Linked DNA regions of Homo sapiens. The protein of the gene in region 1 purifies or fractionates together with the protein of each later gene. This does not show direct contact. Each region holds a gene or a part of one and is shown on either strand. Other genes may lie near its edges.

Region 1 (3,405 bases):
GAGCATCTGGCAGGCAGGGGGGCAGGTACACACACACCCACAGGCACACCCACCAGTACACACGCGTGCGCATACACACATTTTGGTTTGACGCCCTGTTTTCAGTGGCCTGGGGAGGTCCACACTGGAAGTCGAATTCCAGCTCGCCTTGTTGACTCGCCTGTGTCCACCGGCCATGAGGAGCCCACGCCTGTCCTCCCCATCACTTTCCTGTCCCTGAGAACTGTAGATCATGCGCTTGTGAGCGAGGCCCTCCCCTCTGCACCAGCTCATTGCAAAGCGAACATCCTCTCCTTTCCAGGAGCCCCAGGATTAGCATCTGAAAAGGGTAGCACTTCCTTTTTTGTTGTTGTTTTTTTTTTTTTTTTGAGACGGGAGTCTCGCTCTATTGTTCAGACTGGAGTGCAGTGGCATGATCTCGGCTCACTACAACCTCCACCTCCTGGGTTCCAGCGATTCTCCTGCCTCAGCCTCCCAAATAGCTGTGATTACAGGCGTGCACCACCACGCCCGGCTAATGTTTGTATTTTTAGTAGAGACAGGGTTTCACCGTGTTGGTCAGGCTGGTCTCAAACTCCTGACCTCAGGTGATCCGCCCGCCTCAGCCTCCCAAAGTGCTGAGATTACAGGTGTGAGCTACCGCACCCCGCCGAGGTTAGCACTTTCATCACCAAAGACCCCGTGCCTCTCGTGGTCCTTTGAGGGATCCCGCCGCCACCACCCTTGTATTTTATCACGTGCTCTTCAGGGCATGTGGAATTCGTTGAGTTTGCTTTTAGAGCCAAGTTTCTTTCCCTGTGTGGGTTTTTGAGGAAAACCTGAGGTCCCCTAATCTGTGGCCACCACCCCCCCCCCCCGCCACGCCTTAGAGCAGAGCAGCCCCTCCTCTCATTTGGTGCAGAAACAGTCAAGAGGAACCATTGGCCTAGAGCTCCTGTGACCGAGAGCGCCACGGAAGCCTGGGGATGACGTCGGGCAGCTTTATTCTTTGCTTGGCTTTGGTAACTAGGTGGTCCCCTCAAGCATCCTCAGTTCCTCTTGCTGTTTATGAATCTAAGACAAGGAAGTCCTATAGAAGCCAAAGGGACAGGGACGGAAAGGACAGGTCCCAAGGGATGGGGCTGTCTTTACTTGTGGAAACCAGGAAATTGCTCCTCTCAGCCAACCAAGGTTGACCACACACCACCCTTCCGGAGCAGCTCAGTCAGCCCTCGGGGACGAGAAACCACAAGCGCAGAGACGCTGAGGCCCAGGCAGGTGAAGAGGAAGTGGCTTTGGGTTTTTAAAGTAGGTGAGCGTGAGCCTCTCTGACTGCTTCTTCCCCGGGGGGGACTGCAAACCGCTCAGGGTTGCGGCAGAGCCATGGACTTCCGGTCCCTGCAACGGGTGACCTAAGCGTGGTGCACCCATCAGTCACGCAGGAGGACTGACTTGACAGACGAAAGACAAGCCCGGATGACACAGGGTGAGAAGAGTCAGGGCCGCACCTCTGTCCCTGCAAACCAACAGGTGCATGGTGAGTGTGGCAGTCCCCACAGCTCCACAATGGGCTCCCCCGCCAACGGGGACGACAGGGATCTTCAGGAACTTCTGACCTCACCAAGTCAAGTGGACCACTCTCCACTCCACGAGGATGTGAAACGGTTCTTTAAAATGGGATTTTAGAGCCTCGGGAATGCATGTGCGTCACATCTTTCATATTATGGGTCAGGATAGATTCATTTCTTGCAACATAGTGGAAAAGATATAAGCTGCAGTAATTTGCTCTTTGAATGACCGTCACCCCCAGTATAGGATATGCTTGTATCCCCCCGTCACTCCTCCGCCTGTTTTTTAAACTTTTCCACCACCTGCGTCCAAAAAGAATGTTATAGCGAGTGCTCTTAAATGTTGAACCTGGGTGTTGCTTCCGGGCCAGTCTGCGTGGCTCCATGAAAAGCTCACTGCTGCCCCAGCCGGGCTTCTTAGAGGAGGTCAGTTGTCCTATGTATCATCATTTACTCTGGGAATCCTACTGTGAAATCATGTCTGTATTTTTCTGGAGCAGTTCACATAGAGTAGAATGTGGAATTTCCCGTGAACGTCTCCTTCCTCCCCCGTATCTGCCGCCTGTCACTTCGCCACCGTGCTAGAATACTGTTGTGTTGTAAGATGACTAATTTTAAAAGAACCTGCCCTGAAAAGTTCTTAGAAACGCAGTGAAAGGGAGGAACTTGTCCTTTACCCAGTTTTTCCTTTGTAGGATGGGAAAGTATAAAAAGGCACAGAAGGTTGTCATGGGCTGTTCCTTGGGGGTTTTTATCCTGCTCACCGTGGAGATAAGCCTGCGGCTTGTCTAACCAGCGCAGCGCAAAGGTCTCGATGCCTTTTGGTAACATCCGTCATTGCAGAAGAAAGTTTACACGACGTCAAAAAGTGACGTTCATGCTAAGTGTTTTTCCAGAAATATTGGTTTCATGTTTCTTATTGGCTCTGCCTCCTGTGCTTATATCATCCAAAAACTTTTTAAAAAGGTCCAGAATTCTATTTTAACCTGATGTTGAGCACCTTTAAAATGTTCGTATGTGTGTTGCACTAATTCTAAACTTTGGAGGCATTTTGCTGTGTGAGGCCGATCGCCACTGTAAAGGTCCTAGAGTTGCCTGTTTGTCTCTGGAGATGGAATTAAACCAAATAAAGAGCTTCCACTGGAGGCTTGTATTGACCTTGTAACTATATGTTAATCTCGTGTTAAAATAAAATATAACTTGTGGCTCCGTGTCACGGGACTGTTTTGTTGCATGAAGATATGACCCTAGTTGTGGAAGCAGCCTGGTGTCATTGGAAGCCCCCTGGGCTGGGGAGCTGGCCCCTGGGAGGAGCTGGAGACCTAGATAGCTCTCAGTTCCACCCCCATCCACGGTGGAGGGGGAGGCTCTCAGACCGTGGTGACGTGGAATTCGGGCTGATGTAGTGCGAGGATTGCGAGAGGCTGCTTATGGCCAGGAGTATTTTTTGCATGCACATTCAACTGGTTGCTGCTCTAGCTCTTTGGGGACCTCATTGCTTGGGGCTGGGGCAGGAGGAGGTGGTGAAATGAGGGCACACCTGAGTTTCATTATTTATCTGGTATCACCAGTGCTCAAGCCGGTACTCCTGGTGGCGTGGCTGGAATCACTAGTTTCTGTGAAGCTGCAGGCAGTGCGGAGCTGTTTCACGTGGACAACTCGAAAGGGCAGCAGCCTTGTGCCTGGCACTGGCTGGACATGTGCAGTGGGAGGCCCCGTTTCCACAGCCAGCTTTGAAAATTTCACCCTGGCCTTTTGGGGGAAGATAGGATTGGTTTGTGCCCACACTTCTCTGTGTCCCAAGGGTTTTTTTTTTTTTTTTTTTAGCACTGTTTTAGGAAAACAGTTGTCCAGGAAA
Region 2 (3,446 bases), on another chromosome or scaffold:
CACACAGCCAGTGGCCGCCAAGCAGGCTCCTCACTCAGGCTTCCTATCTCCACTTCCTGGGTTCCAAGAACTTTGTCCTGCTCATAGCTCTCTCTCTGCTACATGGTATACAGTAGATACTCAATTAATATTTGTAGGTTGACTAATTGCTTCCTCATTGAACTAACAACCTTCCATCACTTTGCTTGGGATGCCCATTCCTATCTTGCAAACTCCTACTCATACCTCAAAACCTCATTTATAATGCCCCCTCCTTAGAAAGTCTTCCTGACTGCTTGGGAAGACTCCTGACACCCCTTTCTGGGCTTCTGTAGTCCTCCTCCCTCCCTATAGCCCACCTCTGAGCCCATGGGGCTGGGGTATCTGTGTTGTTCTTTCTCTCCCAGAATGGCCCTGTACCGGTTGAGCGCAGTGCAGGGAGGGAGGTACATTAGGTCTCTCGTATCCATCCACCTTCTCTTCCTCCCCTCTCTGGCAACGCAAAGGATACTTCCTGGAGCAGGAAAAGGTTTCCTTTTTTATTTTATTAGAAAATAAAGTGTTTATTCAAAGAACATTAAAAGGCCGGGACCTGTGTGGGGTTGGCATGAGGGGGAGGAGCGAATCTCGGGCTCAGCCAGGCTGGGCATGGGGCTCCTCTCCGTGGAGTATGGGCCTCAGGGAGGCTGGGGTGGGAGGCCCCAGGGTCCGGCAGGAGGGCAGGGGGTGGTCAGCCAGCACCAGGGCGCAGTGTAGAGCTGGGGCAGCAGCATTTGCGGGTTCAGCAGCTCACCAGGTACATCCCTGTGGGGGTGCAGCTGTGAGGGGGAGGGGTGGGGAGGAGGGGTACGGGAGGGGTTCCCCGGCTCTGACCCTGGGATGCTTCAATCATCCTTGTCCTCTTCAAAACACCCCTGTAACTCATAGTCCCTGTTGCCACTGGGCCCCAGGAGCCCCTTGTTGGGGGCAGGAGAACAGGGTGGGGCTGGAGGAGGGGGTGGCAGGGGGGACTTCGGGCTCCCTGGCTGGGGTCCTTCCAAGGACGTCCTCCAAGGGCCAGCCCCAGATACACAGGGCCCTGCCTCCTTGCCCACCTGTGCCCCCCATCTGGGGTCTCCTGGCCCCAACACCCACCTATCTTTCCCAAGGATCCCCACACCCCAATCCCTCCCCACACCCCGGGGCTTGCCCCTGTAAGATCTCGGCTCCTGAGGTCACCCAGCAGCAGGGTTGGGGAGTACCTGTGGCAAACCTCCTCTTCACCAGCGACATGCGGTAACCGCTGCCCACCAGTTCCAAGTCCACGCCCGACAGAGTGGTCCCCTCGCTGGTGAACTGTGCAGCCACGGGGCTGGGTGTGCTGGGCCCTGAGAGCGGCTCCCAGCTGGCAGAGAGGCGGCCAGAACCTGGGGAGACCTGCAGTCAGCTGCGCCCTGGCACCAGCCCCCGTCCCAGCTGTGAACCAGGCTCATCTTTGGCCCACACCTGAAGCCCTCTGTTCTGTGGCCTTTATGTGCCCCATCAGACCTCCCTTTGATCCCCTGCATCTGTCTCTCCTGGCATCACTGGGCTTTGTATGGCTAGCAAGGGAGTCCTGCCTCAGGGCCTTTGCACCTGCTGTGTCTGGCCATCTGGCCCTGGGACGCCCTCTCCTTCAGCTTTTTTTTTTTTTTTTTAGAGACAGGGTCTGGCTCTGTTGCCCAGGCTGGAGTATAGTGGTGCAATCATAGGTCACTGCAGCCTCTAACTCCTGGGCTCAAGTGATCCTCCCACCTGGGCCTCCCAAAGCACTGGGATTACAGACCTATGCCACTGTCCTTGGCCCTCCTCCAGCTTTTTTTTTTTTTTTTTTTTTTTTTTTTTTGAGACAGAGTCTCGCTCTGTCACCCTGGCTGGAGTGCAGTGGCACGATCTCGGCTCACTACAACCTTCACCTACTGGGTTCAAGCGATTCTCCTGCCTCAGCCTCCCAAGTAGCTGGGATCACAGGTGCGTGCCACCACACGCGGCTAATTTTTATATTTTTAGTAGAGACAGGGTTTCACCATGCTGGCCAGGTTGGTCTTGAACTCCTGACCTCAAGTGATCTACCCACCTCGGCCTCCCAAAGTGCTGGGATTACAGGCGTGAGCCACCACACCTGGCCTTTTTTGTTTGTTTGTTTGTTTTTGAGTCAGAGTCTGGCTCTATTGCCCAGGCTAGAGTGCAGTGGTACGATCACGGGTCACTGCAGCCTCCAACTGCTGGACTCAAGTGATCCTGCATTCTGGGCCTCCCAAAGCACTGGGATTACAGACCTATGCCACTCAGCCCGGCCCTCCTCCAGCTTTTAAAGACTTCCTCAATGCCCATACTTGCCCGCCCTCAGTATGTCCCCAATTCTTCCCCAACATAAATAAGTGCCTCCCACCTGACCCCAGTCCCTCCCACCCAGCCCTCATACACAACCACAGCTCACCGCCTGCCTCGGACACATCTGGAAGCCTCCAAGTGAGCCGCTTCTCCTCCAGGTTCCTGGCAGAGAAAGAATCTTAATCAGGGCTTCCCCAGAGAGGATGCTGAGAGCCCAGGGTCCTGCCTCAGCTGCCTCCTGGCTGTGTGACCCCAACAAACCTTCTCCCCCACTTCACCTCAATTTCCTCATCTGTGAAATGAGGGTGAGATATGGAACAGCCGTGGAGCCACACAGCCTTGCAACACTTCTGTGTGTGTGTGTGTGTGTGTGTTTGTTTTGTGTTTTTTTGTGTGTTTTTTTGAGATGGTGTCTCCCTCTGTCGCCCCGGCTGGTGTGCATTGGTGCGATCTCTGCTCACTGCAGCCTATGCCTCCTGGGTTCAAGCGATTCTCCTCCCTCAGCCTCCTGAGTAGCTGGGATTACAGGCGCCCGCCACCACGCCTGGCTAATTTTTGTAATTTAGTAGAGACGGGGTTTCACCATATTGGCCAGGCTGGTCTCAAACTGCTGACCTCAGGTGATCCACCTGCCTTGGCCTTCCAAAGTGTTGGGATTACAGGCATAAGCCACCATGCCCGGCTTCCTTGCAGCACTTTTAGATGACGCATTCTGTCCTATAAGTCTGGCTTCTTCACAACAGACTTTTTTTTTTTTAAATTTTTGTTTTTTAAGAGACAGTTGTCACCCAGGGTAACTCCTTGAAGCCTCAACTCCTGGGCTCAAGTGATCCTTCTGTCTCAGCCTCCCGAGTAGCTGGGACTACAAGAGCACACTACCACTACTATTTTTTTTTTTTTTTGAGACGGAGTCTCACTCTGTTGCCCAGGCTGGAGTGCAGTGGCATGATCTCAGCTCACTGCAACCTCCACCTCCCGGGTTCACGCCATTCTCCCACCTCAGCCTCCCAAGTAGCTGGGACTACAGGCACCCGCCACCATGCCCGGATTTTTTTTTTGTATTTTTAGTAGAGACGGGGTTTCACCATATTAACCAGGATGGTCTCGATCTCCTG

The links.
Region 2: the proteins of FNBP1 (region 1) and FCHO1 fractionate together in Homo sapiens (co-fractionation; one large-scale study listed by BioGRID). This does not show direct contact.

Annotation. Positions count from the first base shown.
Region 1 is NC_000009.12:129,886,534-129,889,938, reverse strand, and holds the end of FNBP1 (formin-binding protein 1), read left to right. Parts: 3' UTR 1-2,752; downstream 2,753-3,405. UniProt on the Homo sapiens protein: May act as a link between RND2 signaling and regulation of the actin cytoskeleton. Required to coordinate membrane tubulation with reorganization of the actin cytoskeleton during the late stage of clathrin-mediated endocytosis.
Region 2 is NC_000019.10:17,785,621-17,789,066, reverse strand, and holds the end of FCHO1 (F-BAR domain only protein 1), read right to left. Parts: intron 2,494-3,446; coding exon 2,438-2,493; intron 1,386-2,437; coding exon 1,221-1,385; intron 798-1,220; coding exon of another isoform or gene 784-797; coding exon 761-783; coding exon of another isoform or gene 657-760; 3' UTR 506-656; downstream 1-505. UniProt on the Homo sapiens protein: Functions in an early step of clathrin-mediated endocytosis. Has both a membrane binding/bending activity and the ability to recruit proteins essential to the formation of functional clathrin-coated pits.